Linked DNA regions of Homo sapiens: all the other regions are reported to be linked to region 1. Evidence: microRNA targets listed by miRTarBase, many of them from high-throughput screens and not tested one by one. Region 1 holds a microRNA gene; each other region holds the end of a gene's coding sequence.

What was found. The annotated mature microRNA hsa-miR-34b-3p reads CAAUCACUAACUCCACUGCCAU and lies in region 1 at 6,342-6,363, opposite strand. An mRNA with a match to its seed (bases 2 to 7 or 8) in the 3' UTR can be bound and repressed. Matches are read on the target gene's strand: a 7mer-m8 pairs with bases 2 to 8, a 7mer-A1 pairs with bases 2 to 7 and ends in A, and an 8mer does both.
Region 2: the mRNA of SYNM is a reported target of hsa-miR-34b-3p. Seed matches in the 3' UTR shown: 7mer-m8 at 5,728-5,734.
Region 3: miRTarBase lists NXT2 as a target of hsa-miR-34b-3p. Seed matches in the 3' UTR shown: 7mer-m8 at 7,162-7,168.

The regions. Positions count from the first base shown.
Region 1 is chr11:111,508,354-111,519,349 of GRCh38, reverse strand. MIR34B (microRNA 34b) reads right to left here and starts at 6,412; the gene lies at 6,329-6,412. It overlaps BTG4 (BTG anti-proliferation factor 4), which reads left to right and starts at 6,964. Exons shown (of 5, transcript NM_001367975.1): 1 at 6,964-7,169. HOATZ (HOATZ cilia and flagella associated protein) reads right to left here and starts at 4,572. Exons shown (of 6, transcript NM_001100388.2): 1 at 4,340-4,572; 2 at 3,798-3,839; 3 at 3,240-3,310. The coding sequence starts at 4,565. MIR34BHG (MIR34B and MIR34C host gene) reads right to left here and starts at 8,748. Exons shown (of 2, transcript NR_147706.1): 1 at 8,478-8,748; 2 at 5,462-6,332. It also overlaps MIR34C. RefSeq lists an enhancer at 8,109-9,308.
Region 2 is chr15:99,129,136-99,140,131 of GRCh38, forward strand. SYNM (synemin) reads left to right here. Exons shown (of 4, transcript NM_145728.3): 4 at 232-6,458. The coding sequence ends at 3,923. It overlaps TTC23 (tetratricopeptide repeat domain 23), which reads right to left. Exons shown (of 14, transcript NM_001288615.3): 13 at 10,182-10,264; 14 at 7,188-8,992. The coding sequence ends at 8,875. It overlaps TTC23-AS1 (TTC23 antisense RNA 1), which reads left to right and starts at 10,182. Exons shown (of 2, transcript NR_186223.1): 1 at 10,182-10,996. RefSeq lists an enhancer at 7,629-8,130.
Region 3 is chrX:109,540,028-109,551,023 of GRCh38, reverse strand. It overlaps NXT2 (nuclear transport factor 2 like export factor 2), which reads right to left. Exons shown (of 4, transcript NM_001242617.2): 3 at 9,405-9,549; 4 at 6,326-8,517. The coding sequence ends at 8,336. Among named protein-coding and RNA genes, the nearest start is that of NXT2, 8.7 kb to the right of the region's middle.

The DNA.
Region 1 (10,996 bases):
TTACTCTTTAATTCATTTAATTATGCATTTATTTATTCAATAAACAAAGATTTACTGAGTTTAATAACCAAAAAGGCACTAGGTTAAGCAAATAAAACATGACCCCTGCCTTTATAGAGTGAATTTGTTGAGGGTAAACTGTGGCCAGGCACTTCACATACCTTACATCACTCTATGAGGAGGATATTAAAAAAAATCATTTCTCTTTTTATATATGAGGAAGCTGAGCATCCCAGGAGTTAAACCACTTGCTCAAGGTCACACAAATAGTAAGTGGCAGAGTTAGGCTTCCAAACCCATCTTGTTGTCTCCAAAATCTACTACACTATGGTGCCTGTAATCTAGCAGGAAAGAGAGAAACATACACAATTACCTACAATACACATCAGAGACTGTACAAATACTATGAGAAAGGATATGTGGCTTGCCGTGGGAGCACAGAGAAGAGATCTATTCATTCTGCTAGTCTCTGGGTAACCCCTGAGAAGGCTTCACAGAAGCTGGCATTTGAGTTAGGCCTTGAAGGTAAATGGGGAAGAGCATTTCAGGCAGATACATGAAAGTGCACTGCAGAATGGAGAACCAGCTTATAGTTCCAGAGCTGGAAATAGTGCTTCTCACATTTGTATTCATACCATAGTTTTGAATTTTAGAATATTTGGCAGCATACTTGAACAATGCCATAGTCAGCAATCATTATGATACAACAAATCTATTATGGGATTAATTTCATGGACTTTGGAGTTAGGATTGCAGGCTTTGAATCTGCTCTGCCACTTACCAGTTGTGGGGACTTTGGAAAATCATTTTAGGCCTTGTTTGGCCAAATGGTGATAATCATAATGGGCTATTTTAAGGAGTATATGAGTTGATGTATGTCAATTGCTTAGTTTAGTGTACAGTACCTAATATACATTCAATAATTGGTTGTTATGAACACTAAATTATGTTATCTCACTATATCTATAAGACAATTCAGTTATTTCAGGATTCTTTTGGTTGCCCTTTTGTATTTTGGCATTGTTCAAATTGAATTGTACTAGATAGTGCTAAGTTTCCCCATATACTAAGAAGGCACAGTTTCAGTAACTTCTCTTTCTTTCCCACTGCCTTACTGTTTTGTTAGGCCTCTTGTCTTCTACTGTCAACAAATGGAATCATCTTCTATATTGCAGTGCAGGACCACTAGGCTTAATGAACAACTTGGCAGATACTATGCATGTTTAGGTATAACAAAAATATACTTTTCCTGTTCATCACTTTGCAAGCATATATGTGAAGGTGTAAATAGTGTTCCTTGGCCTGCATGGTTGAGATCCAACTATACAGAGTTGGGGAGAGAGCATAGGAGAAAGCGGGGAGAGTGATAGGAGAAGACAGGTTAGGACTGGATTGGAAAGGAATTCAAACATGCTAAGGAGTTTGGCCTTGATCTTGTAAAGGAAATGGGCAGCCATGGGGAAAAAAAAAGCAGGAGGGCTAGTATAATCATATTTGGATTTTAGGAAGACAACTAATACATTGTGAGGGATTGCTTTGCATATTCTTTGTCTAACAAACTATAAATCCTTTAAAACCCAGCACCTTTGGGAAGCTTTCTTGATTTGTTACACTTGATTTTGATGTCCCTCAATGTGTTCTCATAGTATTATGTGCATATATCTATCATGATATTATAATATATAATAATTATTGACTTTAATTGGCTGTCTCCTCCACTGGATTGTAAACTCCTTGAGATAAGGGATCACATCTTATCTTTGGATCCCCAGCAGCTAGTATAGTACTTGCAGGTTCTCAATAAATATCTGTGGAATTTAGTAATTAAGATGAGTTCATAGAAGGAGCCAAGACAAGGAATCCAGTTCTAAGATTATTAGCCTAACAGTCTATCAGCATAACCTCCACTGGTAATTCACATCATATTGTCTTATTGTTTGACAAAAGCTGATAGAAATTTATAATAGTTTGTCTTTAACCTTTTATTTCTAATCCTTTCCTAAAATGAAATAAAATGAAAATTAAATTCCGAAAGCACTGAAGTTGACTTTTAATGATTTTTAATTCACTGAAAATTAGGCTTTCCCCCTCCCTAAAAAGTCTGGATATAAATATACAGTACATAATATTCTAAAGAGAGAATAAAATGCTGGCTATTTCTAATTACCTAATTTGTTTGAGGGAAGCACCAGTAGTCCACAAAGTGAATTAATGTGATAAACAAACTCAAATGCATTGTTTTGTAATTTATGTAGAATTCCCGATAAGTCTGTCAGAGTTTGCCAATATGTCCAATGATTAAAGATATTCAGCCAAAATGAATCCTCTATTTTTGCTTTTACAGTATAGGAACAGTTACAGGAGTATAATTTATACATTAATCAAACTAAATGTTTCTATAAATCACTGTATTAATTGCTGAGTTAAAGGCCATGCCTGTATCATGAAAAGCAAACAAAGGATGTTGCCAGAAAGAGAACTGTGCTCAGCTGATTTGACTACACCAATGTGTTTAATTCCAGCCTTTAGTCAAAACAGGTCTAGATGACAGACTCATTCCTCTGATCATTTAATTTTGACCTATTAAGACAATTAATTCTATTTGATTTTTCCTGTTCTTATGATTTTTTTTTAAGACTGTGTCTCACTCTGCTGCCCAGGCTGAAGTGCAGTGGTGAGATCATAGCTCATTGCAGCCTTGAATTTCTGGACTCAGAGGATCCTTCTGCCTCAGCCTCCCAAGTAGCTCAGACTACAGGTATGCACCAGCAGGCCTGGCAAATTAAAAATTTTTTTTTTTTTTGTAGAGTTAGAGGTCTTACTATGTAGCCCAGGCTGGTCTTGAATTCCTGGCCTCAAGGGATCCTCCTGCCTAGGTCTCCCAAAGCATTGGGATTGTAGGTGTGTACTACTGCACCTGGCCTCTTATGCTATTTCTGTTCTTAGAACACTGTATATGGTTGGGGACCTTACTGGATGGAAAGTGTGTGACTCTACCTCTTTCTATTTCTCTCTGGTTCTGTTGTTCCTATACATTCTTGGACTTTTGCTGAGATTGATAATAGCCAATGTTGAATAGAATTTTTAAATTTTCAATTAAAATTCTAATAAAGGTTTCCTTAATTTGCTCAAGCTGATGCACTAGAAGTAGCAGATTTTTAAATATACATGTGTTTAAAAAATCAAGATTATTTAGAAATTTAATGATGATCAGATGACCTTCTGAAATATTGGCCTACCTTTTGGAGATACTTTACTTTCTCCTCAGATTCCTGTATCTTTAGGGCTTCGGCAAAGATGTCTCTATTTTCTAGAGGGAATAAAGTCAAATTCAATCTGAAATAATTTTATTATGATTTTATACTAAAATTGATATAAAATTGGACATGGGTTGAAAGGGAATACATAGAGTAGGAAGGTAAACAAAAATACATGTGGTGTATTGGAACTTTACAAACCAGATTTGCAAACAACTGGAGACTGAGTTAATTAGCTATGGCTGCAGGGAACCTCTAATCTCTTTAGATGATGAGTAAGCTCGAGTCCAGAGACAAGAAAAAGTCTCGAAAGAGAGCATATCTGCAGGATCAGAGATTCCAATTTCTACATTCCTGTTCAAACTGTTAAAGGAATTTAGGCATTGTCCTCTGGATAAACAGGGTGGTCCCTGAGCAGGGACTTAGGTGTTCAATTCAGAAAGTTATACCACAGTGTAAAGTAGTACCCTTGTACTTATTGTCTATTTTCTGATGAACCTAGGAGTCAGAATGTTGAAAGGCATAAAACTTGGTACTTACTGTTACTCGCAAGGTGAAAAGACTGCGAGGAGTGGCTGTTTTCTAAAAAATACAAAAGGGAAGTAAAGAAATCATTGGAAAAGTCAACAACATTAAAGGCGTTTGAATTTTTTATACTATAACAATTGCATAACAGTTTCCACATCCTAGGCCTCACTAAGGGCTCACAGGTCCAGGAAGTTCATTGGTAATGTTGACTCCACCTTCATCTTTCTCCAGGGCTTTTCATGTTTGAATTAAACTATGTAAACTATCCTTTCAGCCAACACATAGCATTTCCTCAGATTATTCTATACTGTTTACCAAATAGATGCCATAATTTAAGGGAAACTTATATGTTTTTAGATGTAACATATATACCACTGATCCTTTTCGGGTGGAAGGGTTGCTGGAAGGGTTCAGGAAATATTTATACATGCATTTGTATGTACTTATAACTATTTGTATATACCATTGCAGTTTCTCCTGGAAAGGGCTCTGGTACCTGCAGGCCAGTTACGGTGAGGCAGATATGACTGACAGGAGGCCGCTATTCTACTCACCAGACCCTCTGCTCCTCCTGGGCCGCGCCACCGGCAGACGCTGACTGCTGTCTCTGCGCAGCACCAGCTGAGATTCGCTAGGGGGATACATCGACGCCGAGATCCAGAACTGCTTAGCCAAGTTGGCATCTTGTTCCGAGGAGCCAGCAAATACCAGTAATCCCGGGGGGCACATTTCCTGGGACTCTTTTCGGCCGCTAGGTTCTTCGCTGGGTCCCGTTTCCATGGCAACTGAGGACGCTTCTGCAAGCGTCCTCTCCCCTCCCCCCGCCCCGCCCCTGCCCCGCCCCTCCGAGAACCGCCAAGTTGGTACCAGCCCCTGCCGGCTGCCCTCGGTTTCCTAGGTAGGTGTTGGGATCCGCCACGCGCGTGGGGGCCGTCGGAAGCCCACCCCTGCGGTGATCAGGTTTTAGGACCAGTCCAAATCTTGGATATGGGAGAGTCAAAACGTCAACTTTGGGTTGTGTCCTGTCGGAGTCAGTGGGGGAGTAGTTTAGCTTCTTATATCCTCAGTGGGCTGCCACATCCTCTCCCCTCCCCCCAGAAAGATAGCTAAATAAACTTTAAATTCCTCAGCCCCATTGCCCCAATCCCCACTTCCAAACCAGATTGCCAGGGACAGCACCTGCTAGGTGGAAGTTCTGAGAACGTTGCGCTGGAGAATTCACGCCTGAAAGCCTAGCCCTTGGGAGCTAGAGGCCTGAACTGGGCGGATACGTGCCCATGTGTACAGTTTCTGTGATTTTAAAATTCTGAATCCTTTAAATCTTAGGAAACAAGCTGGATTTAAAGTGTAAGTGCATTTACTAATCACTCCCACTAAAAGTTGCATAGACTCCAACAGTTGTAAATGATTACTTAAAAGAAGGGATACATCTTAATGAGTGAACAGAGTCTCTTCATGGAAAAAAGAAGTATGAAAAATTTTGTTAATGTATTTCTTATAAAAGTATTAACAAGTCTGTGTGTATGAGTAGCTTTCCCGGGAGATTTTTGTCATGGCAGGAACAACTTAACCACTTCATTGATAGAAAAGTTAAGATTACTGTGGCAGGAACTGAGATGGACATCATAAAGTCAATTTAGCAAAGGAAATGGACACATAGCAATAACCACAATTTATGTCTTTATGGCACTTTATTCTTTCGAAATATTACTAACAATATTACTTTCAAAATATTACTAACAATATAGTCTCAAGAAGTTAATAATCACATGTTCATATAATAACATACATCAGTCAGCTAAGAAAAAAATCATATTCCCCCTTATATCTAAAATTTTGGTTAAGAGCCTGAAGGAATATTGAAAAAAAAACAAAACAAAACCCCACATACATACACATTACATACATTGTAAACTTAGTAGCTGAAATGTTGATTTTTTTCTTTTGGCTGAGCAATTAATAGGCAATGGATGAAATCAGCATTTTCCAACACCCCTCTTCCCCACGCACATTGATGATGCACAGGCAGCTCATTTGGACGAATTCCCAAATCTTTTTACCTGGCCGTGTGGTTAGTGATTGGTACTATTAGCAATCAGCTAACTACACTGCCTAGTAACTAGACTCATAGAAAAAATTGCAGTCTCAAGTTGGTACCCCAACACGTTGTGACAGGCAGGCAATTCATTGGTTGAGTTGGAGCTCAACTGAGTTGCTAGCTTGGTGAATACTCTACTAGACGATGGCAAATAGACACAGTGAATCACAGCATACAGTATTAACCGTTACATGGATGGAGGGGCTTCACCTCCAGGGATTTTGCTTTCCTGGCATGAGACTGTTTCATCTTCTGTGACTCCTAGAGAGAGCTAACAGTTTAACTGTATCTGGAGAAACCGCGGGTTTCCTCGCACTTGCAGCGGGCGCTCGCGGGGCAGGCTGCGCAGGACCCACGCCGACGCCGCGCTTCTCAGGCATCTTCTCTCGAAGGCTGCGGGCTGCCCGAGCCGGCGTCTTCTTCCCGGCCGGGCGGCGGTGATGCTGTGCCTTGTTTTGATGGCAGTGGAGTTAGTGATTGTAACCACCACAGTACAATCAGCTAATGACACTGCCTACAAACCGAGCACCGGGCACCCGCGGCTGCAGCTCCCGGACGGTCCGCAGCGCCGACGCGGGGTCGGGGCCCGCCTCGGACCCCATTTCACCGGGGGACGCCCTACCATGGCTGGGCGCAAGCGGCCCCCGAGGACACCCCCGGGCCCAGCGGGACCCCCGCCGGCCTCGCAGCGCACAACACGCGTAGCTGGGCCAGCGGGCGGCGCTGCCGGGGAGGACCCGCGCCCTCCCAGGCCGGGAGCCGCGCCCCGACCCCCATGACCCCCAGGAGTGCCAGGCCTCCCCTTCCCGCAGCCTCCCGCTCCTCTCAGGGCCCTCCCGCTCAGGTTCCCCTCGCTTTTCCTTTCCCCTTCGCCTCCTCGGCCCGGGCTCCCACTTCCTTCACGCCAGGCTTCAGTTCCCAGCCCCAAACCCTAGAGCTGGCTCTCTCGACCCCGTGCGCCCCGCCGCTCTGAGCGGCCGAGTGACTGTGGCGGGGGCGACCAACCGTCCTTGGAACCCCGCGGGCCGAGGGGCGGGGCGGGCGCGAGACGGGGCGGGTGGGGGAGGGGATGGGGGGGGGGAGGAGGCTGAGAGAAAGCGCTGTGGGCGGTCCCTGAAGGGCCTCCAAGGGAGACGCCTAGAAGATGGAGGCCCAGATTCTTGAGACGTTTCTCTTTCTGATCTAGCAGGAGGGACAAAGAGCTCCTCCACTCCCTCATTCCCCAAGAAGGCCCCCAGCCTACCCAGTTTCCGTGACCATTCCGCCCTGGGAAAGCGGCTTCCCAGGTACCTCAAATTATAGGTTTGAATTTTCCAAATGGAGGTGGGCTTGGGTAGCCTCTGACATATGGGAGGATGGCTTGGAGAGTCTCATCTGCACCTCTGTGCTCTGTTGGGGACTTGGCCTTATACTCTTAGAGGGCCATGCAGTGATGTGAAGCCTGGGCCTTCTAGTCAAATAGTGAGCCAGGCAGCTTGTTAGTTACATCAAATCGTGGTCCTCTTGAGATCAAGGCCATACCATTCAAGACAGTATATATATAATAAATTACTAAACTAGGGACTATTTAGAATAGTAGAAACTATTTGTATCAGAAATAGAAGGGAGGTCCTCAATGAGAGCTGTAATAGGTCAAAGAAGGTTCCCAGAGGAGGTGAGACTTGAGTAGATCCTTGATGCACGAGTACATTTGGATATTCAGGGTTAGGGCTGTGGATGCCAGAAAAACAGTATCTTGTGACAGTTGGGCAAAAGGGACAGTTACAGAGGACTTCTGGGAGATCTCTGCTAATAACTTTCCTTCCCCTCCTTTGCCTTTAATGAATTAATCAGGAGAGGATAAGGAATGTTCTCTTTATCCTCACCTTGTGAAATTCAGCTGGAAGCAGCCTCCCCTAGAAATATGGTCTTCATGCATCCAGTATAGAGCACCCATTGCTGACACCAAAGGCTTAGTTCTAAATTAGTTTCTGCAAAAGAAAACTTCCCACCTATAGATTGATTCCCTAAAACCAGCAAATGGTCTCATAGATGCCACAAGTAACATGAACAGGGGCAGGTCATCTGGATCATTCAATACAAACTACAAACTCACACTATTAAAACAACTAAAGAACTGCCCAAGGATGTTTGAATAAGTTATAGCATTTTCTTTGCATATGAAAGACAGCACTTTTTTTCCAAATGCATACTTTGTTCTGTACACCCCATAGTGAAGGGAAAGAAACCAAAATACAAAATATGTAGCACAGAAAATGTTAATTGTAAAAATTAACTCGTAGAATTAAATTGTGAAAGACAAGCCATCTACAATAACTGTATTTTGTATTCATCTTATCTTTGTGAGGGGCACGGTGTTTTAGCACACATTACATAAATGACTCACATTCACCTAAATATACATACATGAAACTAGGAGCAAAATAGTCTTCATTCCATTAACAATATGCAGACTTAGAGAAATCTTGGTTAGGAGATAGTTATAAAAATGATTCTCTTCTACCAAATTGTTAGTCACTTTTACCCAATACTATATCGAACACTTCTTCCCAACTGATGTTTTATGATTATTAGTTGCATCTTAAATATCTTACCTGAGCTGGATTGCTGCCATCCAAGGCAATGGTTGGGTCAGATGCCTTGAAAAGTAGGTTTCTACAGACTTTTCTTCAAAAGTAATAAAAAATAAAACTCATATGTAAAAGTCATGAAGATGCATTGCCTACTGAAATAACTTTTTAAAATGAGTTTATTTTCTATGTAGTACAACTAAAAATTTAAATAACGACAAAAAATATGTGTGGCCTAGTTCTGTTGAAAAAAAAAAAAGAATGCTTGTTCTTAGGGTTGCTGTTGATTTGGCCTGCAGTTACTAGAGAAACTCCAAGGATCTCATTCCCTTTATGGTTCATGTCTAGGCATGCCTGGAGACCAGGGAGACCCATGATTTAATCTAAGTAAGAATGCTTGTGGTGTTTTAAATGCCCACACAGAGGATTGCATTTGTTTTAGACAGTACAAGGAAGGCACCTTTCAGGGGAATTGTTTACTGTTTTAATTTCTGGGCTTTTGGTGATTAGGGAGATGGAAAAGGAGCTATCAGGAGAGACAAGGTTGATGACTAGGAGGAAGCCAAGAAGAGTGTAGAAAACAAATACCTTCTGCTTTAGCTTTGGCACATTTATATTGACTTAATTTACCACTTCTAGATACAAGACTAGATTGATGGGAATTGGGAATTAGAAAAGGTGGAGACAGGCCGGGGGTTGTGGCTCACACCTGTAATCCCAGCACTTTGGGAGGTCAAGGCGGGCGGATCACGAGGTCAAGAGATAGAGACCATCCTGGCCAACATGGTGAAACCCTGTCTCTACTAAAAATACAAAAATCAGCTGGGCGTGGTGGTGCGCGCCTGTAGTTCCAGCTACTTGGAAGGCTGAGGTGGGAGAATAGCTTGAACCCGGGAGGCAGAGGTTGCAGTGAGCCGAGATCGTGCCACTGCACTCCAGCCTGGGTGACAGAGCAAGACTCCATCTCAAAAAAAAAAAAAAAAAAGAAAAAAGAAAAAAGAAAAAAAAAGATGGAGACAATTGGAGACAACATATCCCTCCCTTCAATACATACAAACTCACCATCTCCCACAGCTTTTGAAGGATGTTGTTGGAAGAGGAAGAAATGAAGAATTAGACTAATTAGAAATTACTGGATTTTAGCAGCTTCTTTATAAACCTGTTTTGTTTTTGTTTTTGTTTTTGTTTTTGTTTTTTTTTGAGATGGAGTTTTGCTCTTATTGCCCAAGCTGGAGTGCAGTGACGTGATCTTGGCTCACTGCAACCTCTGTCTCCTAGGTTCAAGCGATTCTTTTGCCTCATACTCCTGAGTAGCTGGGATTACAGGCGCCCACCACCATGCCTGGCTAATTTTTTGTATTTTTAGTAGAGATGGGGTTTCACTATGTTGGCCAGGCTGGTCTCGAACTCCTGACCTCAGGCGATCCACCGCACCCCCCTTGGCCTCTCACAGTGCTAGCATTACAGGAGTGAGCCACTGCACCTGGCCTAAACCTGTTTTTTTAAATGCATATTTACTCATAGGAAATATAAAACCATATCTTGGTTTATAGATCAATAAATGTCAGATTATTAAACTTCTTGATAGTATACCTAGAAACTAGTTTATATGTTGAAGCAAGACTAAATTGAAGTCAATTCAGTGCCTTTGAAGAACTAAAAATAATTGAATCTATTTATGGGAGAAGATTTTCTTTTGAGCTAAAATGAACTGCCAGCGGTTTTTATAATTCCATATTTCTAGTTTCATTTCATTGTACTCTCATTAGTAAGAGTGCACCAGATTCTTAATTAGCTTCTTGTTTATATTTATTGATTAATCAATACTGTTGCTTTCAGTATAAAATGTTAATTTATCTTTCAGGTAAATCATAAGCAGTCTAACAAAATAGTCTCTATAATTAAAGTTGCCGGAGCTCTTAGGTATGGCTTCAGTAGGAGCAAACAGGTTGCATATTTTCCATCTTTAGAGAACAATCTCTAAGGATTTATGTGGTCTAGTTGGTGAGATGGACAATGTGTGTATATATAGATAATTAATATGTTAATTATATTAGTATGTAATATGAATATATCTTAATATAACTTATAGTAATAGATTAAGAATTCATGTTTGTGTTATATATTCTATTTATATTATATATAATTATTTAATATCAAGATGGTTATATGAAAAAGTGCTTCAGGAATCCTGATGACTAATACAAACTTCATTATTGCCAACATTTAGGAAAAAGGAAAAGGAAAATTATCAAAGGTTAGGACACAGAGAAGGCTATATGGAAAAGATGAGCCTAGAAGCAAAAATACTAGAGATGAAGAGGGAATGTTTTGGTAGCAGGAGCAATTTGTGAAGGAAAAACACAAGCAAATTTATGGAGATTGTAATGTATAAGGCCAATTGGAAGAGCAATGAGTGTGTTCCCATTGGGGAAATAAGATTAAAGAGGACTTTAACATTTAAAGTCCTCCATGATCCTACTTACCTGCCTGCTCATACGTTTCTGTGAAGTTCACCAAAAAAAAAAAAGCCCAGGGAGTTT
Region 2 (10,996 bases), not on the chromosome of region 1:
AAACGTGTTAGGCTGAAGTATTTGTAGTGCTACATTTTATTGTAACAGGATTTTGTAAACTGCCAAAAAATAATTTGGGCACCAAATATAACTTATCTTTATAATGAGCTTTCTGTGGTAACAGTGTATATTTATTATGATGGAATGGGATTTGGCCTGCAACAATGCTTGTAGATGGAAAAGGGTAATGATGACTGTCATTTTAATGAATGCTTTGTTCAATTTCTACAGAATTCAGAAACAAATCCTATCACTATACCGACTCACTACTACAGAGGGAAAATGAAAGGAATCTATTTTCAAGGCAGAAAGCACCTTTGGCAAGTTTCAATCACAGCTCGGCACTGTATTCTAACCTGTCAGGGCACCGTGGATCTCAGACGGGCACATCTATTGGAGGTGATGCCAGAAGAGGCTTCTTGGGCTCGGGATATTCTTCCTCGGCCACTACCCAGCAGGAAAACTCATACGGAAAAGCCGTCAGCAGTCAAACCAACGTCAGAACTTTCTCTCCAACCTATGGCCTTTTAAGAAATACTGAGGCTCAAGTGAAAACATTCCCTGACAGACCAAAAGCCGGAGATACAAGGGAGGTCCCCGTTTACATAGGTGAAGATTCCACAATTGCCCGCGAGTCGTACCGGGATCGCCGAGACAAGGTGGCAGCAGGTGCTTCGGAAAGCACACGGTCAAATGAGAGGACCGTCATTCTGGGAAAGAAAACAGAAGTGAAAGCCACGAGGGAGCAAGAAAGAAACAGACCAGAAACCATCCGAACAAAGCCAGAAGAGAAAATGTTCGATTCTAAAGAGAAGGCTTCCGAGGAGAGAAACCTAAGATGGGAAGAATTGACAAAGTTAGATAAGGAAGCGAGACAGAGAGAAAGCCAGCAGATGAAGGAGAAGGCTAAGGAGAAGGACTCACCGAAGGAGAAGAGCGTGCGAGAGAGAGAGGTGCCGATTAGTCTAGAAGTATCCCAGGACAGAAGAGCAGAGGTGTCCCCGAAAGGTTTGCAGACGCCTGTGAAGGATGCTGGTGGTGGGACCGGTAGAGAGGCAGAAGCAAGAGAGCTACGGTTCAGGTTGGGCACCAGTGATGCCACTGGTTCTCTGCAAGGCGATTCCATGACAGAAACCGTAGCAGAAAACATCGTTACCAGTATCCTGAAGCAGTTCACTCAGTCTCCAGAGACAGAAGCATCTGCTGATTCTTTTCCAGACACAAAAGTCACTTACGTGGACAGGAAAGAGCTTCCTGGGGAAAGGAAAACAAAGACTGAAATAGTTGTGGAGTCTAAACTGACTGAGGATGTTGATGTTTCCGATGAAGCTGGCCTGGACTACCTTTTAAGCAAGGATATTAAGGAAGTGGGGCTGAAAGGCAAGTCAGCCGAGCAGATGATAGGAGACATCATCAACCTCGGCCTGAAAGGGAGGGAGGGGAGAGCAAAGGTCGTCAACGTGGAGATCGTGGAGGAGCCCGTGAGTTATGTCAGCGGGGAGAAGCCGGAGGAGTTTTCCGTCCCATTCAAAGTGGAGGAGGTCGAAGATGTGTCGCCAGGCCCCTGGGGGTTGGTTAAGGAGGAGGAAGGTTATGGAGAAAGCGATGTCACATTCTCAGTTAATCAGCATCGAAGGACCAAGCAGCCTCAGGAGAACACGACTCACGTGGAAGAAGTGACAGAGGCAGGTGATTCAGAGGGCGAGCAGAGTTATTTTGTGTCCACTCCAGATGAACACCCCGGGGGGCACGACAGAGATGACGGCTCGGTGTACGGGCAGATCCACATCGAGGAGGAATCCACCATCAGGTACTCTTGGCAGGATGAAATCGTGCAGGGGACTCGAAGGAGGACACAGAAGGACGGTGCAGTGGGCGAGAAGGTTGTGAAGCCCTTGGATGTCCCAGCGCCCTCTCTGGAGGGGGACCTGGGTTCCACTCACTGGAAAGAACAAGCTAGAAGCGGTGAATTTCATGCCGAACCCACAGTCATTGAAAAAGAAATTAAAATACCCCACGAATTCCACACCTCCATGAAGGGCATCTCCTCCAAGGAGCCCCGGCAGCAGCTGGTGGAGGTCATCGGGCAGCTGGAGGAAACCCTTCCCGAGCGCATGAGGGAGGAGCTGTCCGCCCTCACCAGAGAGGGGCAGGGTGGGCCGGGGAGCGTTTCCGTGGATGTCAAGAAGGTCCAGGGTGCTGGTGGCAGTTCCGTGACCCTGGTTGCTGAAGTCAACGTCTCACAAACTGTGGATGCCGATCGGTTAGACCTGGAGGAGCTGAGCAAAGATGAGGCCAGTGAGATGGAGAAGGCTGTGGAGTCGGTGGTTCGGGAGAGCCTGAGCAGGCAACGCAGCCCAGCGCCTGGCAGCCCAGATGAGGAAGGTGGAGCGGAGGCCCCGGCTGCTGGCATTCGCTTTAGGCGTTGGGCCACCCGGGAGCTGTACATCCCTTCAGGCGAGAGCGAGGTTGCTGGTGGGGCCTCTCACAGCTCGGGACAGCGCACTCCCCAGGGCCCAGTGTCGGCCACTGTGGAGGTCAGCAGCCCCACAGGCTTTGCCCAGTCACAGGTGCTGGAGGATGTGAGCCAGGCTGCAAGGCACATAAAACTCGGCCCCTCTGAAGTCTGGAGGACTGAGCGAATGTCATATGAAGGACCCACTGCAGAAGTGGTGGAGGTAAGTGCGGGAGGTGACCTAAGTCAGGCAGCGAGCCCGACCGGAGCCAGCCGGTCTGTGAGGCATGTCACGCTGGGTCCCGGTCAAAGTCCACTGTCCAGAGAAGTCATCTTCCTAGGCCCTGCCCCTGCCTGTCCAGAGGCATGGGGCTCGCCAGAACCTGGCCCAGCAGAGTCTTCTGCAGATATGGACGGATCAGGGAGGCACAGCACATTTGGCTGCAGACAATTTCATGCTGAAAAGGAGATTATTTTTCAGGGCCCCATTTCTGCTGCAGGGAAGGTTGGTGATTATTTTGCAACAGAAGAGTCAGTGGGTACCCAGACTTCTGTCAGGCAACTCCAGTTAGGCCCTAAAGAAGGGTTCAGTGGGCAAATCCAGTTCACAGCTCCACTTTCAGACAAGGTGGAGTTGGGTGTCATAGGAGATTCTGTACACATGGAAGGGTTGCCAGGGAGCAGCACATCCATCAGGCACATCAGCATTGGGCCTCAGAGGCATCAGACCACCCAGCAGATAGTTTACCATGGGCTGGTTCCCCAACTGGGGGAATCTGGTGACTCAGAGAGCACTGTGCACGGAGAGGGCTCAGCAGATGTGCACCAGGCCACTCACAGTCATACCTCGGGTAGACAAACCGTTATGACTGAAAAGAGCACCTTCCAAAGTGTCGTTTCTGAATCTCCCCAGGAGGATAGTGCAGAGGACACATCAGGGGCAGAAATGACATCGGGTGTTAGCAGATCCTTTAGGCACATTCGACTAGGTCCTACAGAAACGGAAACCTCTGAACACATTGCCATCCGTGGACCCGTGTCCAGAACATTTGTGCTTGCTGGTTCAGCGGACTCCCCTGAGCTAGGCAAGTTAGCAGACAGCAGCAGAACGCTAAGGCACATTGCACCAGGGCCCAAAGAAACTTCGTTTACCTTTCAGATGGATGTGAGTAACGTAGAGGCGATCCGCAGCCGGACACAGGAAGCGGGAGCTCTCGGTGTGTCTGACCGTGGTTCCTGGAGAGACGCGGACAGTAGGAATGACCAGGCAGTTGGTGTGAGCTTTAAGGCCTCTGCTGGGGAAGGAGACCAGGCCCACAGAGAACAGGGCAAGGAGCAGGCCATGTTTGATAAGAAGGTGCAGCTCCAGAGAATGGTAGACCAAAGGTCGGTGATTTCAGATGAAAAGAAAGTTGCCCTCCTCTATCTAGACAATGAGGAGGAGGAGAATGATGGGCATTGGTTTTAATAAGCAGAAACATTTTGTTTTAATGGCAGCCTGTTGGCGACGTGCCAACATCCAAAGGCCTTAACTTATTTTAAGAGGCCGAGGGAGTCTATGAAAATCTCCCCTTTTTTACTTTTTTAAAGAGTACTCCCGGCATGGTCAATTTCCTTTATAGTTAATCCGTAAAGGTTTCCAGTTAATTCATGCCTTAAAAGGCACTGCAATTTTATTTTTGAGTTGGGACTTTTACAAAACACTTTTTTCCCTGGAGTCTTCTCTCCACTTCTGGAGATGAATTTCTATGTTTTGCACCTGGTCACAGACATGGCTTGCATCTGTTTGAAACTACAATTAATTATAGATGTCAAAACATTAACCAGATTAAAGTAATATATTTAAGAGTAAATTTTGCTTGCATGTGCTAATATGAAATAACAGACTAACATTTTAGGGGAAAAATAAATACAATTTAGACTCTAAAAAGTCTTTTCAAAAAGAAATGGGAAATAGGCAGACTGTTTATGTTAAAAAAATTCTTGCTAAATGATTTCATCTTTAGGAAAAAATTACTTGCCATATAGAGCTAAATTCATCTTAAGACTTGAATGAATTGCTTTCTATGTACAGAACTTTAAACAATATAGTATTTATGGCGAGGACAGCTGTAGTCTGTTGTGATATTTCACATTCTATTTGCACAGGTTCCCTGGCACTGGTAGGGTAGATGATTATTGGGAATCGCTTACAGTACCATTTCATTTTTTGGCACTAGGTCATTAAGTAGCACACAGTCTGAATGCCCTTTTCTGGAGTGGCCAGTTCCTATCAGACTGTGCAGACTTGCGCTTCTCTGCACCTTATCCCTTAGCACCCAAACATTTAATTTCACTGGTGGGAGGTAGACCTTGAAGACAATGAAGAGAATGCCGATACTCAGACTGCAGCTGGACCGGCAAGCTGGCTGTGTACAGGAAAATTGGAAGCACACAGTGGACTGTGCCTCTTAAAGATGCCTTTCCCAACCCTCCATTCATGGGATGCAGGTCTTTCTGAGCTCAAGGGTGAAAGATGAATACAATAACAACCATGAACCCACCTCACGGAAGCTTTTTTTGCACTTTGAACAGAAGTCATTGCAGTTGGGGTGTTTTGTCCAGGGAAACAGTTTATTAAATAGAAGGATGTTTTGGGGAAGGAACTGGATATCTCTCCTGCAGCCCAGCACCGAGATACCCAGGACGGGCCTGGGGGGCGAGAAAGGCCCCCATGCTCATGGGCCGCGGAGTGTGGACCTGTAGATAGGCACCACCGAGTTTAAGATACTGGGATGAGCATGCTTCATTGGATTCATTTTATTTTACACGTCAGTATTGTTTTAAAGTTTCTGTCTGTAAAGTGTAGCATCATATATAAAAAGAGTTTCGCTAGCAGCGCATTTTTTTTAGTTCAGGCTAGCTTCTTTCACATAATGCTGTCTCAGCTGTATTTCCAGTAACACAGCATCATCGCACTGACTGTGGCGCACTGGGGAATAACAGTCTGAGCTAGCACCACCCTCAGCCAGGCTACAACGACAGCACTGGAGGGTCTTCCCTCTCAGATTCACCTGGAGGCCCTCAGACCCCCAGGGTGCACGTCTCCCCAGGTCCTGGGAGTGGCTACCGCAGGTAGTTTCTGGAGAGCACGTTTTCTTCATTGATAAGTGGAGGAGAAATGCAGCACAGCTTTCAAGATACTATTTTAAAAACACCATGAATCAGATAGGGAAAGAAAGTTGATTGGAATAGCAAGTTTAAACCTTTGTTGTCCATCTGCCAAATGAACTAGTGATTGTCAGACTGGTATGGAGGTGACTGCTTTGTAAGGTTTTGTCGTTTCTAATACAGACAGAGATGTGCTGATTTTGTTTTAGCTGTAACAGGTAATGGTTTTTGGATAGATGATTGACTGGTGAGAATTTGGTCAAGGTGACAGCCTCCTGTCTGATGACAGGACAGACTGGTGGTGAGGAGTCTAAGTGGGCTCAGTTTGATGTCAGTGTCTGGGCTCATGACTTGTAAATGGAAGCTGATGTGAACAGGTAATTAATATTATGACCCACTTCTATTTACTTTGGGAAATATCTTGGATCTTAATTATCATCTGCAAGTTTCAAGAAGTATTCTGCCAAAAGTATTTACAAGTATGGACTCATGAGCTATTGTTGGTTGCTAAATGTGAATCACGCGGGAGTGAGTGTGCCCTTCACACTGTGACATTGTGACATTGTGACAAGCTCCATGTCCTTTAAAATCAGTCACTCTGCACACAAGAGAAATCAACTTCGTGGTTGGATGGGGCCGGAACACAACCAGTCTTTTTGTATTTATTGTTACTGAGACAAAACAGTACTCACTGAGTGTTTTTCAGTTTCCTACTGGTGGTTTTGATATTGTTTGTTTAAGATGTATATTTAGAATGACATCATCTAAGAAGCTGATTTTGCTAAACTCCTGTTCCCTACAATGGGAAATGTCACAAGAATGTGCAAAAATAAAAATCTGAGGAAAAAACCCACATTGTTCCTAAAGAGAATGAATATTTTCAGTAGATTTTGATGTTTCCTTTAAACTCTAAGTAAAGAATCTGTGTGTTTACATGCATGTTTTTAGGGTAGCAGAGAATTACTGGGCAGAATATATATGAAAAGTTCCAGTTCTCTAATTCCTCACCTGAATCGGAACTCAATATTGGGAGCACAGAGCTAGAAAGCCTGGCAGACAGAGCATAAGCCAATTGGCTTGTAATCAAATATACACTGGACAATTTGTGGTAAAAATGTCATCATCACAGCCTGAATGACTAGTGGCAGTAGGACACCACCAACCATCCCATTTGGGATGGAGAGGTTTCTTGGGATGTGGTACTTTGAGTGCTAAAACCAGGACTGTCCTGGGCATACCAGGACAGTTGGTTACCTTATAAGTGCAAATTGGAGGGTTAACCCTAAGGCATGGCCATTTCTTAGGGGCTTGAAAAAACTGAGGTAGTTTGAGACAAAGGAATAGCTAGATATCTTTACCCGTTTGTAACCTTGTAGCCCTTTACCAAAAATAGAAAAACACAAGTAGCTATAGTCTTCCTCTCGTTGAAGTCAACAGAATTAACAGATGGGAGACATTGGAGGGAACATTCCTAAATTCATTGCTTCCTGGGGTGGGGTGGGGTGGGGGCGCTAAATTTTAAAAATGTGTTTTAGTTTTTGTGATTCCAAGCTACGCTTCAAGAAGTACAGAAAGGAAGAAGTAACATCAGAATTCACATTTATTTCAAAAACTCGGCATGGACTCTCAGTTCAGGCTGCTGTAACAGAAAGCCGTAGCCTGAAAGGCTTAAACAACAAACATTTATTTCTTACAGTTCTGGAAGCTGGGAAGTCTCAAGGTGCCAACAGTTTCATTTCCTGGTGAGGGCTCTCTTCCGGGCCTGCAGACGGCTGTCTTCTCACTGTGTCCTCACATGGTGGAGAGAGAGATCATCTCTCTGGTGTCTCTCCTTATAAAGCACTAATCCCATTCATCAGGGCTCCACCCTCATAACCTAATCACCTCTCCAAGACCCCACCCCCAATACCATCCCTTTGGGGATTAGGGCTTCAACGTGAATTGGGAGCATATGAACATTCACCCCTTAGCTGACTCCACCCATGTCAACTAGATAGGACACACGGTGAGTAGTGACATCTTACACGTTTTTAGCACACTGCTGATGTCCGACAGGCCTGGGTCTGGGACCAGTGTGTACCAGCAAGCATGGTCTGTGGGGTCAGCTGTCACGCTCCTGAGGAAGACAATGGTCCCTGCTTCTCTCCACCCTGTCGTGGCTCTACTGAGTTTATTTTCCCCATCAATACTGGAGGTGGTGCCCTGCACAAATGGCCCCAGGGTGGTTTTGATGTCCCACTGGGGGCTGGAGGGGAGGGCCCTGTGCTGCAATCTGCTGTCATAGCACCAGCCTGCAGCCTCATGGCCACAGTCTGTGGGACCAGGGGAGGGAGGGGAAGGGACATCACTGCCCACACCTGCACCCCTACCCCTGGGTGTTCCATCCACCTCGATCTGGCACTGGATCTCCTCGTTGACATCGTGGAGGAAGGCACTCAAAGCTTCCTGTTCGACTTTGCCATCCTCACACGACTATGGCCTCCTTCCAGGGGGCTGAAGACTGCTGTGTACACGATAGTGTGCCAACTCAGGAAGCAGCTCCAGGTGGCATCCAGGTTTGTCCTGCCTGCAGTGGAGGCCACAGGAGGGATGCGAAGCAGCAGGGAGTCTGCGGTCTTCCCCCCGCAGCCTCCGGCTAGCCTTTCTTTTCACTCCCTTACACCTGCCTCCTGGGCCCCAGGCCAAGTCAGGTGTGTCGGCCTCCTGCCCCTCCTACTGGGCTCTTTCTCAAACCCCTTTTCAGGCTCCGAAGAACTCTGAGGCAGGCTGCACTTTGAAAACACATGCTGACAGCAGCGTGTTCAGGTTTCCCTTTATTAGCGTTTTCTTCTCATGTTATTCTCAATCCCTATTAGCCTCCTATAAGAAAGGACTTCCTGAAGTTCACTGTCCAGATCTAACTCCACACCTATGCAAGGAGCTGTGTGTACAAGCAGATGCCGGGCTGACTCCTGCACAGGGCGCACTGAACTGTTGAAGAGAAGTTTTTCAGCCACAGTAGTGCTGATGGGTAAAAATTCTTGTTGGCAAGAAAAACCACTTAGGTGATAGAAAACTGCTTTATAGCATATATCACCCTGAAGGGCATCCACTGTCAAAATGTGGCCCACGGGAGGCTTATGGTCTCACTGTTGCATGTTGGGGCCAACAGTTGGCCTTGGAAATCTGTATCCTGACTGTTGAATTCCATTTTCTAGGCGGAGGTGATTTGTACAGCACCCTAAATGACAGTGCCCAGGAATGTCCTAGGCTTTTTCAGGGTGGGGGCCTCAGTCTGCTGTTGTGCCGGGCCGGGCCTTCCCCAGCAGGGTGTCCTGAGGGATGCTGGTGCAGAAGGCCACTTTGGCTTTTGATGCCTGCCTTGGCTTCGAAGCAACCTTGGGGGCCCTGCAGACAAGCAGAGGGTGGGGTGAGTGTGGTGCCCCTCAGCCCCCCACACCGTTCCCATCCAGCCTTTGCTGCCCAGCAGGTGCCCAGACCCATTTATGAGAAGACTTGGTAGGGGCTATAAATGAGAGGAGAATTGTAGCACAGAGCATAAAACATGAGATGTTTTCCTCCCATCTTTTATTTTTTTAATTTTTTTTTTTTCAGACAGAGTCTCACTCTGTCACCCAGGCTGGAGTGCAGTGGCCCCATCTCGGCTCCCTGCAACTTCCGCCTCCCAGGTTCAAGCAACTCTCATGCCTCAGTCTCCCGAGTAGCCAGGATTACAGGCACATGCCACCACGCCCAGCTAATTTTTGTATTTTTAGTAGAGACGAAGTTTTGCCATGTTGGCCAGTCTGGTCTCAAACTCCTGGCCTCAAGTGATCCACCGCCTCGGCCTCCCAAGGTGCTGGGATTATAGGCATGAGTCACCTCGCCTGGCCCCTCCCATCTTTTAAAATCACCTGTGACCATCCTCACTGAGCTGAGGCCCTCAACCCTTAGCTGGCTTGGTGAGCAGGACATGGGTGAGGAGGATGGTCAGGGTTGCACTGGAGGCCTCCCTGGCTCGCCTTCCCTGCCCTCAAAGGGGATGGCGCCCTGCTGGCCAGGTTGTGTCTGCTCCGGGCTGTGGCCCTGTTTCCCTGAGCAGACTCAGGCAGCCCTGGGGCTGCTCTCTGCGGACCAGGCTCTGTGAGGTAGGCCCTCCACGGCAGAGCGCTGGGCCTCTGCTCGGGCTGAGAAAGGACGTAGGGGCCAGCCTTTAAGGTCAGTCAGTGAACCTTCCGGCTCCAGTCCTGACGGGCATCCGAGGGCAGAGGGAAGCCGGAAGCAGGGCTGCAGGAGGCCACAGGGATTCCCGGGGCCCTCCCCCTGCAGCAGGTGCCTTAGCCTGCAGGGGCTGGTCTGCAGGAAGACAACATCCAGCATATATTTCTGACTTAAAGGATGAATTATTTTTAAATACCTGGGCAAGGAAGATCTTTTACAACTCGGGTTTCAAAGGAACTTGTCCTTTATGCAAGTTATGGGAAGTCAGCAAAACATTCCAGAGAAGGTTACACAGAACCTTCTAGAACCAGCTTTCTCTTGAGATTCTGAATGGAAAGGGAATGAGATAGAGAAAGTGTGAGGGACGCCAACTCACGTGGACAGCATGCCCATGGCCTGCTGGGTGGCCAGAGTCCTTTTGTCCTGCGGTCCATATAAGAGGGTCTGGATCTGGAGACACTGTAGAACACCAAGCAGCTATCATGAGGCTATGGAAGTGTCGCTGAGAGCAGGAAACTAAGGTCTCCCTTGAATGAGAGAAAGATGACCTCATTCTTAGGCCCTGCTGTGATGGAATTAGCATGCTCCTGGGATGTCTCCTAGTGACTGACCTTTGGTTTGGATGTTCTGAGGGATCTAGGCAAAAGTGAACAGTTTTAGCACTATTTCACAAAACTCTCTGTGACTATCTGTATGCAAAAAATAGATTTAAAAGTAGTATTTTTAAAAATAAAGGCAAGAACCTTGGTACTGACCAGAGGATGGGCTCCAGTTTCTATTTTTAAATGTGGCCCTTGTTATAGCCTGGAAAAGATTTAAAAAAATAGTTTTGTTTTTTTTGTAAACACATACTCTACTTTTATTAATATATAGGCTGTCTATACTCTTGACTACACAGCAATGTCTTAGTTATTAGGAACCAAATATTCAGCTTATGGACTACCCAGGGCTGGCTTTGGCTTGATTTCTCCCTTCTGCTTACTTTAAGTCTTGCCATTTGATTGCTTGTAGTAGGCTAGGGCAAATCAAGGAGAGGAGAAAGATTAAAGTTGTGCCCAAAATGGCCAAAATAATTTTGAGAAAGAATGAGGTGGAGAGGTGGAGGAACTTGCTTTACTGAATGCCAAAGACCCTTTTATTTTTTTAAATAAAGTAATTAAGACAGCATGTTTGTCACCCGGGGTAGACAAA
Region 3 (10,996 bases), not on the chromosome of region 1:
TATCTCATCCTGTGACTTAGAATGCTTTAATCTCCTGGGAATGCAGCCCAGCAGGTTTCAGCCTCATTTTACCCAGCCACTGCTCAAGATGGAGTTGCTATGGTTCAAACGCTTCTGACACCAAGACTAATGAAATATTCCTTTCAGTTATGGTATTGTTCCAGATACTGCCAGCCAAAATGCAACAACCCCAAGATAAAAGCCTATTGCCTCCAAAGTAATGAGTTAACAGATTTAGCTCGAAAGGAGAGGGTGAGGCCTGAGGGATTTGAAAAGAGGGCAGGCTAGGTCTAGAGTCTACCACAGTGTGGGCCTTAGGAAGCATAGCAATATAGGGCCTGAGAAGGATGGGAGAAAGGGGCATGGAGGTAGGAAGTCTCCTAGTTCCTAGTTTTGCCACTGGCCTTCCAGGGATTTGTGAGTGTATACATATTTTTAGCTGCAGTTCTCATTTTCCTCCCAGTTATTATAAATTACCTGTCTGGGGAGGCTGTTTTTCCTAGTTTCTCTCTCCCGTCTTCCTCTCCTTTTATTTTCAGTTGTTTGGAAAGCAGTATCTTCCCAACTGTCCCTACCTACCATTCTCCCTCACCTTCCCCCAGCTAATTACTCCTTCCATCCCTTCTCCCAGGCTTGTCTTTTCTCCTCAGCAACATCCAAAGCCAGTGAATTATTAGGTCTGAGATTGAGCCCAGACCATTGGGAATCCTGGATGCCACAGATGGACGGATTAGTACCTTAGAAAAATCATTTCCAGAGGCTCTTTCAGAAACAACAAAAAAGAGTCAGGAAAACGGCCGGGCCCGGTGGCTCACACCTGTAATCCCAGCACTTTGGGAGGCCGAGGCGGGCAGATCACGAGGTCAGTAGATCAAGACCATCCTGGCTAACACGGTGAAACGCTGTCTCTACTAAAAATACAAAAAATTAGCCGGGCGCAGTGGCGGGCGCCTGTAGACCCAGCTACTCGGGAGGCTGAGGCAGGAGAATGGTGCGAACCTGGGAGGTGGACCTTGCAGTGAGCTGAGATCAGGCCACTGCACTCCAGCCTGGGTGACAGAGCGAGACCCCTCTCAAAAAAAAAAAAGAGTCAGGAAAACAAAGTGCTTATTGGCTACCTCAGGCAGCTCAGGTTTCCAAGTCAGACCGTGGTACCTGGGCTTGGTTAAGTGTTGCAGGCATCTACTGCCAATTTCTTGCCGTTGAGCAAGAGAATTGGAATGAATAATGTTACAGTCAATTTTGTTTTTCTAGTTACAGAAAGACTACTTGAAAATACATTTGCAAAATTACTATCGTTTCCTTTAGGGCCCTGAATCCTTTTTTTTTTTTTTAACAGTAAAATAACCATCTCTATAAATCTAATCTTAGACTTTTTTTGCGGAGCTGGTTTAACAACTACCTGGTAAAGTCAGGGGCAAGGTTTAGAATGAGTGTCTGGCTGCGGGAAACAGTCACTCTCAATTGATTTTACCCTTAAAGAAAACCAGAATTTTTGGAAGGGAGGAAACCAATCATCAAGCCAAAAACTATAACCATTGTATTTGTGTAGCACGTGGCACTTAAATATTTTCGTTTGTTGCCTTATTTGATTCTCACAACCACTTGGTGGGCCAGATAGGACAAATAGTATTTCCATTCAATAGCTGAAGAGAGAGGCCCAGAGTAAGTGAATTGTGCAAAGTCACAAAACACATTAGGGGCAGAACAGCCTTAGAACACAGGTCTTCTTTGGGTCTGGGACCAGGATTACACCTTAGAGACCACCACAGCCTTTGTCAAACAAGGGGAGTTGATATGTAGATGTTTGGGGTGTTCAAGGAGGGAGGAAAAGGAAAAAAACACATGAAATTTAAAATTTATCAAAATACAGCTTACATAATATCAGATCATGTTCAAAAGTGGTCCTGCTAGAAAGCCTTCTCACTTCTTTCCTTGGACACCTGAAATAGCACAGTTCCTTCCATTTCAACTCCTTTTCATTGCCGCTCATTCTATTCCCAGACTCTGCCTAAAGACTATGTAAACATTTGCTTTCTTAGCTCTGAACTTCTCGTGCAAACCAAAGAACGGGAGGCAAACACTGCTGCCCTTCATGGCCCTCAACAAATATGAAAAACCTGAGAAGAGAAAGAAGTTTTTGGTCACTTCTAAGTCAGGGTGACATCATTGATATATGGCACTACCTATTGGAAGCCAGCCCTATACCCCTACTCAAAAGTGATAGTGAAAATATGCTTGATCTATTTTTGTGTTTTTCAAACTGATGGTACAACCCGTTAGGAAGTTGTAAAAAAATCAGTTGAGCAACTTATGACCAGCATTTAAAAAAAATAATAGAATGAAATAGAAAATGCAAGGACCACACTGCAAGTGGTAAACGTGAGTTTTATTTTGGACATTATACACACACACACACACACACACACACACACACATACACCCACATATATAGGTTTACTTGTGCATCTGTATACCGGGTTGTGATGTAAAATATACTTCTCACTGTGGGTCATAGTGAAAATTTTGAAAGCTCTCTCTCTAAAGAATGCATATACCACAATCCCAGATTTATGTTGTGTCCTAAGACCCCTCCATCTGACACATTATTCCAACAATACATTTTTCTACCTTTTACTGCTTCCCTAGAAAGCTAGACTGACCTACATAGCTGACTGAGAGTCACTGAGAACTCTTTTGTAAAGAAAGCTGCATTTGGCAAAAGGTAAGCATTTATTAATAGAATACAGCAGTTTGGAAAAAAGTGTTTCGATGAAATACTTTTATTATACAGAGCCAACTACAAAATCAAAAAGCCAAAAATGCCTTACCATTTTCCCCTAAATATGTGTGGTTATGTTAAAGCACACATAGGACAGGAAGGACAACACAGGCTTATAACAAAAATCAGTAAATGGAATCCCCTTCTACCAAATTTCCTGCCCAATTTCAGGCAAATAGTGAATTCATCAAAATTTCAGAAAAGAATTCACAGTACCTTCTTGGCTTTTGACTTCCTGCTCCTTTTCCAAACACTGTGCTTATCCTTGAACCTTACTGGGGCTATCTTTATAGATACACTATACATTACTAGGTGATTTCCAAAAAGTATGAAAATGTTACCATGACTCAAATTCACTGAGGAATCTGTGGCTCTTACAGCCATATGGGCTACTCAAGAAATACAAATGGCATGGTGACAGAATTTGTTTGAGTCATGAATTATTAGTCTTGTAAGCTTACAGCCTTTTACTTCCACTAACGCCTACAAATTTAGACCTAAGTAGATTCCTAGCCATTTTTATCTAGGCAAAACTCCTAAGATGCCATTGTTTATAAGACTCACCATTACTTTACCACTGAGAAAGGGGAAATGAGACACAACTATAATATGGCATCAATTTAAGATCTGTACCAATTCCAGAGATGTTAAAATGTGAAAAATACATGCATCTTTGAAGAGATAAAATATGATATTTAATTTTAAGAGCTATTACTGTGCTTTAAAATTAGAGATGAGGTCTTGCTGTTGCCCATGCTGGAGTGCAGTTGTGCAGTTATGGCTCATTGCAGCCTTGAGCTCCTGGGCTCAAGCGATGCTCCCAACTTAGCTTCCTGAGTAGCTGGGCATATGCCATTTTGCCCTGCTAACTTACTTTTGTAGAGACAGTGGTCTTGCTATTTTGCCCAGGCTGGTCTCGAATTCCTGGGCTCAAGTGATCTGCCCACTTCAGCCTCAGAAAGTGTTAAGATTACAGGCGTAAGCCACCATGCCTGGCTGGCTGTTGCTTCTTCTCATTCCCCTCCAAAAAAGTCTGCTGACATATATATTTTTTTAATTTTCTTTTTTTATTATACTTTAAGTTTTAGGGTACATGTGCAGAACATGCAGGTTTGTTACATATGTATACATGTGCCATGTTGGTGTGCTGCACCCATCAACTCATCCTTTACATTAGGTATTTCTCCTAATGCCATCCCTCCCCACTCCCCCCACCCCACAACAGGCCCCGGTGTGTGATGTTCCCCACCCTGTGTCCATGTGTTCTCATTGTTCAATTCCCACCTGTAAGTGAAAACATGCGGTGTTTGGTTTTCTGTCCTTGCCATAGCTTGCTCAGAATGATGGTTTCCAGCTTCATCCATGTCCCCAGAAAGGACATGAACTCATCCTTTTTTATGGCTGCATATTAGTCCATGCTGTATATGTGCCACATTTTCTTAATCCAGTCTATCATTGATGGACATTTGGGTTTGTTCCAAGTCTTTGCTATTGTGAATAGTGCCACAATAAACATGTGTGCATGTGTCTTTACACCAGCATGATTTATAATCTTTTGGATATATACCCAGTAATGGGATGGCTGGGTCAAATGGTATTTCTGGTTCTAGATCCTTGAGGAATCGCCACACTGTCTTCCACAATGGTTGAACTAGTTTACAATCCCACCAACAGTGTAAAAGCGTTCCTATTTCTCCACATCCTCTCCAGCACCTGTTGTTTCCTGACTTTTTAATGATCGCCATTCTAACTGGTGTGAGATGGTATCTCATTGTGGTTTTGATTTGCATTTCTCTGATGGCCAGTGATGATGAGCATTTTTTCATGTGTCTGTTGGCTGCATAAATGTCTTAAGAAGTGTCTGTTCATATCATTTGCCCACTTTTTGATGGGTGGATTTTTTTCTTGTAATTTTGTTTAAGTTCTTTGTAGATTCTGGATATTAGCCCTTTGTCGATTCTGGATATTAGCCCTTTGTCAGATGGGTAGATTGCAAAAATTTTCTCCCATTCTGTAGGTTGCCTGTTCACTCTGATGGTAGTTTCTTTTACTGTGCAGAAGCTCTTTAGTTTAATTAGATTCCATTTGTGTATTTTGGCTTTTGTTGCCACTGCTTTTGGTGTTTTAGTCATGAAGTCCTTGCCCATGCCTATGTCCTGAATGATACTGCCTAGGTTTTCTTCTAGGGTTTTTATGGTTTTAGGTCTAACATTTAAGCCTTTAATCCATCTTGAATTAATTTTTGTATAAAGTGTAAGGAAGGGATCCAGTTTCAGCTTTCTACATATGGCTAGTCAGTTTTCCCAGCACCAGTAGGGAATCCTTTCCCCATTTCTTGTTTTTGTCAGGTTTGTCAAAGATCAGATGGTTGTAGATGTGTGTTATTATTTCTGAGGGCTCTATTCTGTTCCATTGGTCTATGTCTCTGTTTTGGTACCAGTACCATGCTGTTTTGGTTACTGTAGCCTTGTAGTATAGTTTGAAGTCAGGTAGCATGATGCCTCCAGCTTTATTCTTTTTGCTTAGGATTGTCTTGGCAATGCAGGCTCTTTTTTTAGCTCCATATGAACTTTAAAGCAGTGTTTTCCAATTCTGTGAAGAAAGTTCTTGGTAGCTTGATGGGGATGGCATTGAATCTATAAATTACCTTGGGCAGTATGGCCATTTTCACAATATTGATTCTTCCTATCCATGAGCATGGAATGTTCTTCCATTTGTTTGTGTCCTCTTTTATTTCGTTGAGCAGTGGTTTGTAGTTCTCTTTGAATTAATTGCCTCCCACAGGGGTTTCTTCTTTATTAGTCTTACTAGTACTCTATCTATTTTGTTGATCTTTTCAAAAAACCAGCTCCTGGATTCATTGATTTTTTGAAGGGTTTTTTTTTGTGTGTGTGTGTCTCTATCTCCTTCAGTTCTGCTCTGATGTTAGTTATTTCTTGCCTTCTGCTAGCTTTTGAATGTGTTTGCTCTTGCTTCTCTAGTTTTTTTAATTGTGATGTTAGGGTGTCGATTTTCGATCTTTTCTGCTTTCTCTTGTGGGCATTTAGTGCTATAAATTTCCCTCTACACACTGCTTCAAATGTGTCCCAGAGATTCTGGTATGTTGTGTCTTTGTTCTCATTGGTTTCAAAGAACATCTTTATTTCTGCCTTCATTTCGTTATTTACCCAGTAGTGTTGACATATTTTTAATGTAGAATTAAATTTAATGAACCATTCTTTCTGGAAATCAACTGTATTTTGGTTTCACTGCCTATCGAATATAGCATTTTAGCTGGTTTCTCAAGGTTAAGATTTCCAACTTCTCACCAAAAACCTACAGGTATCTCAAACAAGTGATGATCTCAGGAATGTGAATAATTGGCAGGAAAAGGAGACAGATGTGGCAGGTTACAGAAAGAACCAAAAGAAGATCCAAGTTGTTAACCATTGTTGTCAACACACTACTGTAATTTTTTTCTAAATTTAAAAAACCTTATATTGTAAAGAAACAAGTAACCATTCTGAAACCTAAGAACAAAAATCAAAAGACCTTAAAACAATCTTGAGAAAATCTGTCACAAGGCAAAATTTTATTTTTTCAAGTTACAAAAATAGGAGCATGTCAAAAATACAGTCTAGTCCTTATACGAGTAGTTCCAGCCATTTAAAAGTTATACAGAGTTTGGAAAAAGCAGTTTATATACAAGTCTTAAAACACAACAATCATGAACAATGCACACCGTTCAATGTAGTTATTGCTAGTTATATGCAGCTTTTAGTTACCATTGTTCTTCTCTGTAAGGGAAAGGACAGCATTTGGACATTCTGATTGTTGCTGCTGAAGCTGTGGTTTTGGAAAATCAATCCAAAATAAGAATAAGCTCACTATGAGTAGAATAAAACGTGTAAGTTTCAATCAGTACTACAAGAAAGCATGGTTTAAATTTGAGTTCCATACAATTCTACATAACTCTATTTTGTTACTATAACAGAAATACAGTGTATAGTTTTGGGCAAGAGTAAATGAATTACTGGTTTTATAATTAAGTGAAAAGAAACAGTTTTTGGTTGCAATGTAGAAACAAAGCTGGCATATCTAGCTTACAAACATTAAAAAATGGAAAAGATATTTAATGTTTAAGCAAAAGCTGAACCTAGGTTATTTACCTTTAGAAATTAAGAGATAAAGTTAAGCATTTTGTTCTTTTGAGGATTATCATGAAGATTTGCTATTCTCTATTTTCTTTTTAAAAAGAAGAGTTATCCACATAGCGGGAACATATTTTGAAACAGATCTATTTGCTCAATGTCATATGGAAGAACAAATCACAAAATTAAATAATTCTACCTTTAAATAATTAAAGATAATGCAGTTGACAGTACAAAGCACTGGGAAAAAATCACTTATTTGGGGGATGTGTGATACATAAGAAACTTTGGGCCTAAAGTTCACATGGAAGACTGGAAGACTTAAAATTTAAGGGTGTCACCAAAAGATAACAATGGCTTTGACTCCAACTCTCATGTTAGACCCTGTTAAAAGGTTAGGTTTATTGCTGTTATTTTACCCCAGTAAGTTATTGAATAAATGGAGATATACATTGGTGATAAGTATGAGGTGAAGTAAAAAGATCTAAAAATATTAGTCTTAGAACAAAAATGACACTCATGATCACTTGGCAAGGATACTTATTTACTTAGTGATTTAAATCCTAAAAATAAGCTACATTTTTAGGAGGTAGAAAACAAGTACCAATAGTTTACCATTTGGCCACCCTCCTTACTTTTGGCTTCAGCCTTGGATTTCTATTTCTCATTCCCTATTCTCCTGTTAAAGCTATTAGTTCTACTACCATTCATTACCTAAATGTATAGACCTGGAGCTGCCAAGAAAAATCTTTTTAGGAAGCTTTGCTTTTAAGCCACCAAATGCACCCAATACTCAGATATCAACTGAGAACGTTTTGCACCTCTCTAGTTGATTAATTTACTTCACACAAAAAAATGCCAAAACAAAAATTACTTAAAATGAAAAACGACCACTGAACATCTCTATATGCAATTCCAGTATGTCAGAGTAGTTATGTAAACCTAAATCTGTACTATTTTCACTGAACTGATTTGAAAAAGCCATATATTAAAATGGCATTACCAGTGTTAACTGAAAACAGGCAACGTGTTTTACTAGAAAATTAACCTAATAACCAAAAAACTCCACTTCTTCCCAGAGTGTTATATTGTGCTGACATCCCATAGATAATATTATAAAAAGATTTTATTTTTGCAATAGGCTGGGTTCACAGTGAGTATGTTAGTACCAAGATCATGTGTTTAATATTATTATAAGAATGTCATTAGTGGAATGTATATAAGGCATGTAAAAAAATAGTTTTAAAGCTCTTAGAGGGCAATGCTCCAAACTGGCAGCTGCTAGAAAAGGTGCTGACAGGAATAGAAAATATTAAAGAAATTTAGTTTCAGCACATATTATAGTGCTTCTACAATCAAAATAATTCACATAAATTTCAATTGCTGGAACTAATGGACCAAATGAGAATGGACTTTTGCCCCTTTAACTACTAGACCAATCTTGAAAACGGAAGCAATCACTTGCAATCTTCCACACAGTATTGTTGGGAGTGGACTGAGCAGTCAGCAGGAAGTTCTGGTTGAAGAAATGTTGTTTGTTTCCATCAAACTTCACAGTTCCACTGGTCACAACAAGAACTGTAGTTTGGGACTGAGTTGCTTGCTCTTCATCCACATTAAAAAAAAAAGAGAACACATCATTTTCTATCTCTAAATAAGCAGATTTTCAGGCTTAAAATACATTGTTTATGGACTAATGCTTAAAATTTTTTTCATACACTTTCTGTCCCTTGAGCATAATCTTAAGCATGCATACTCAAACCCAGAAAACTAAGTACTTAGTAAAAGATATTAAAATTATTTTCAGTCCAGAAAACTTTGGGATACTCTAGTTTCAAAATGAGGAGCTTATATCTAGCATAGGACCATTTGCTTCATATATATATAAATATTTCAGAATTAATATTTCAGGTTTCTAACAGAGCTTATTCATGCTTTGCTTCTTAAACTATTGTTCTTTTCAGGAATTATAAAGGAAAAAAATCACCCTGAACTACAATTTAAGACACTTAGGACCCCACCTAGAGGTTTTATTAAACTGTATCAATCTACCTGGAATCAAATTTTCTTGTAAAAAGTCATCCTTTCACATAACAGAGTAAATTTCTGTGAAATATTAGTAGATTGTAAGATACTGAACACATTAATCAGAGATATGGTATAATTTTACTCTGGAGACATTTCAGGGTCCAGCAGGCAACTATTTAGAGAAATCAGATAATCTTTCCCTGCCATTTACAAAAATCACATTAATCTCAACTTTTCATACAACTTTTAATAAGCCAAAATCACATAATCCATCAAAAGCTACTAGTGGAAAGAATCTGAAGGAAGACCAAAGTTTGACTGGACAGTTACATTTTTCATAATATTTAACTTGCTCAAGTAAGTAAATAGTTCTACCACTAAAAGTTTCTCGCTGCTTTTGGTGTAAAAGCTCAGTGCTTACTAGAGGAAAACAAAGGAAGCATCTTGAAAGATCATGATCTTACCATGAACTGGTTGGCAATCTAACATATTGACCTGGAACTCACTAGAAGGCAATGTGTCAAAAAAATTATTTAGGGCATCCAGCCCTGAAACAGCATTTCCATTCCATATTAAGGTGGCCTTGTCCAGATACAGCCTGGTTAGTGCCTAAAAAGAAAGACAAATTTAAAAAAGGGAAATAATTCTGTTTCTAGATAAACATTTTATAGAAATGGATTAAAATATTACAGATGGTATATAAACATTTTTTGTAGTTCTACCTTCATCTCCACTCCCCTTGCTCCATCTCCACTGGAAACCCATGTGAACAAAACGTCTGTCTTATAATCTTGGCCTTAAATAAATATCACCTTACTCTTTATAAACTAGGCAGTAAAATATATTTTTTCATATTTCACTTTAGACACAATAAAACCTTCCACCCAATTAAGTTCTGCTTTCTGTATTCAAATGAATTAAATGATCACAAATTCCAAGCAAATGCAGCCCCAAGCCAGTTTTAGTGTGTCTTCCTTTTGTAATTATGAGAATTAACAAAGTTTTTGATCAAGCCCTACCTGTACCCTTTAATGCTAGTGGCTATATATATATATGAAACATTTAATATTTGCATGTGTTAGAAAGAATTAGTTCACTACTCCCACTTTTTAGAGAAGAGGTTTATGTTTTCTTAAAAATTATTCTGTTTTTTAAAAAAATTGAGACAGGGTCCTGCTCTGTTGCCTCAGGCTGGTCTCAAACTCTTGGGGTCAAGAAATCCTCTTGCCTCAGCCTCCCAAGTAGCTGGGGTTACAGGCATGTCATACCATGCTCGGCTATAGTACTACTCTATTAGTGTACTTAGTTCAAAAGAATCATGAGTACTTGCTAAAGCAGAGACTTCGATAAGTCAAATAAGTTAAGGCCCAAATGAGGCAGAAATTCCACAGTTAAAACTCTGGGGTCACAAGACACACTATTAGCTTAATTCTATAATGTAACTTGGGTTAAAAGGCCAGGCAGGCATGGTGGCTCACGCCTATAATACCAGCACTTTGGGAGGCTGAGGCGGGTGGATCATGAGGTAAGGAGTTCAAGACCAGCCTGGTCAAGATGGTGAAACCCCATCTCTACTAAAACTACAAAAATTAGCCGGGCGTGGTGGCAGTTGCCTGTAATCCCAGCTACTTGGGAGGCTGAGGCAGGAGAATCGCTTGAACCCGGGAGGCAGAGGTTGCAGTTAGCCAAGATCGCGCCACTGCACTCCAACCTGGGTGACAGAGTGAGACACCATCTCAAAAAAAAATAAATAAATAAAAATAAAAAAAAAGGTCAACACATATATTGACACTGGTAATAAACAATGTTGTCTTTTTTTTTCTACTTTATTTTTTGAAAGCAGTAAGGTACAATACACATTCAAGGCAAGGCACAATAAACATCCATTGTCACAACCCTTTTCCCTGACATCAAATATCAGTACAAGAAACTTCTTTTATCTTTTGCCTTAAAAAATTGGTTTTCACCTGACAAAAACAAGCAATGGGGAAAGGATTCCCTATTTAATAAATGGTGCTGGGAAAACTGGCTAGTCATATGCAGAAAACTGAAACTG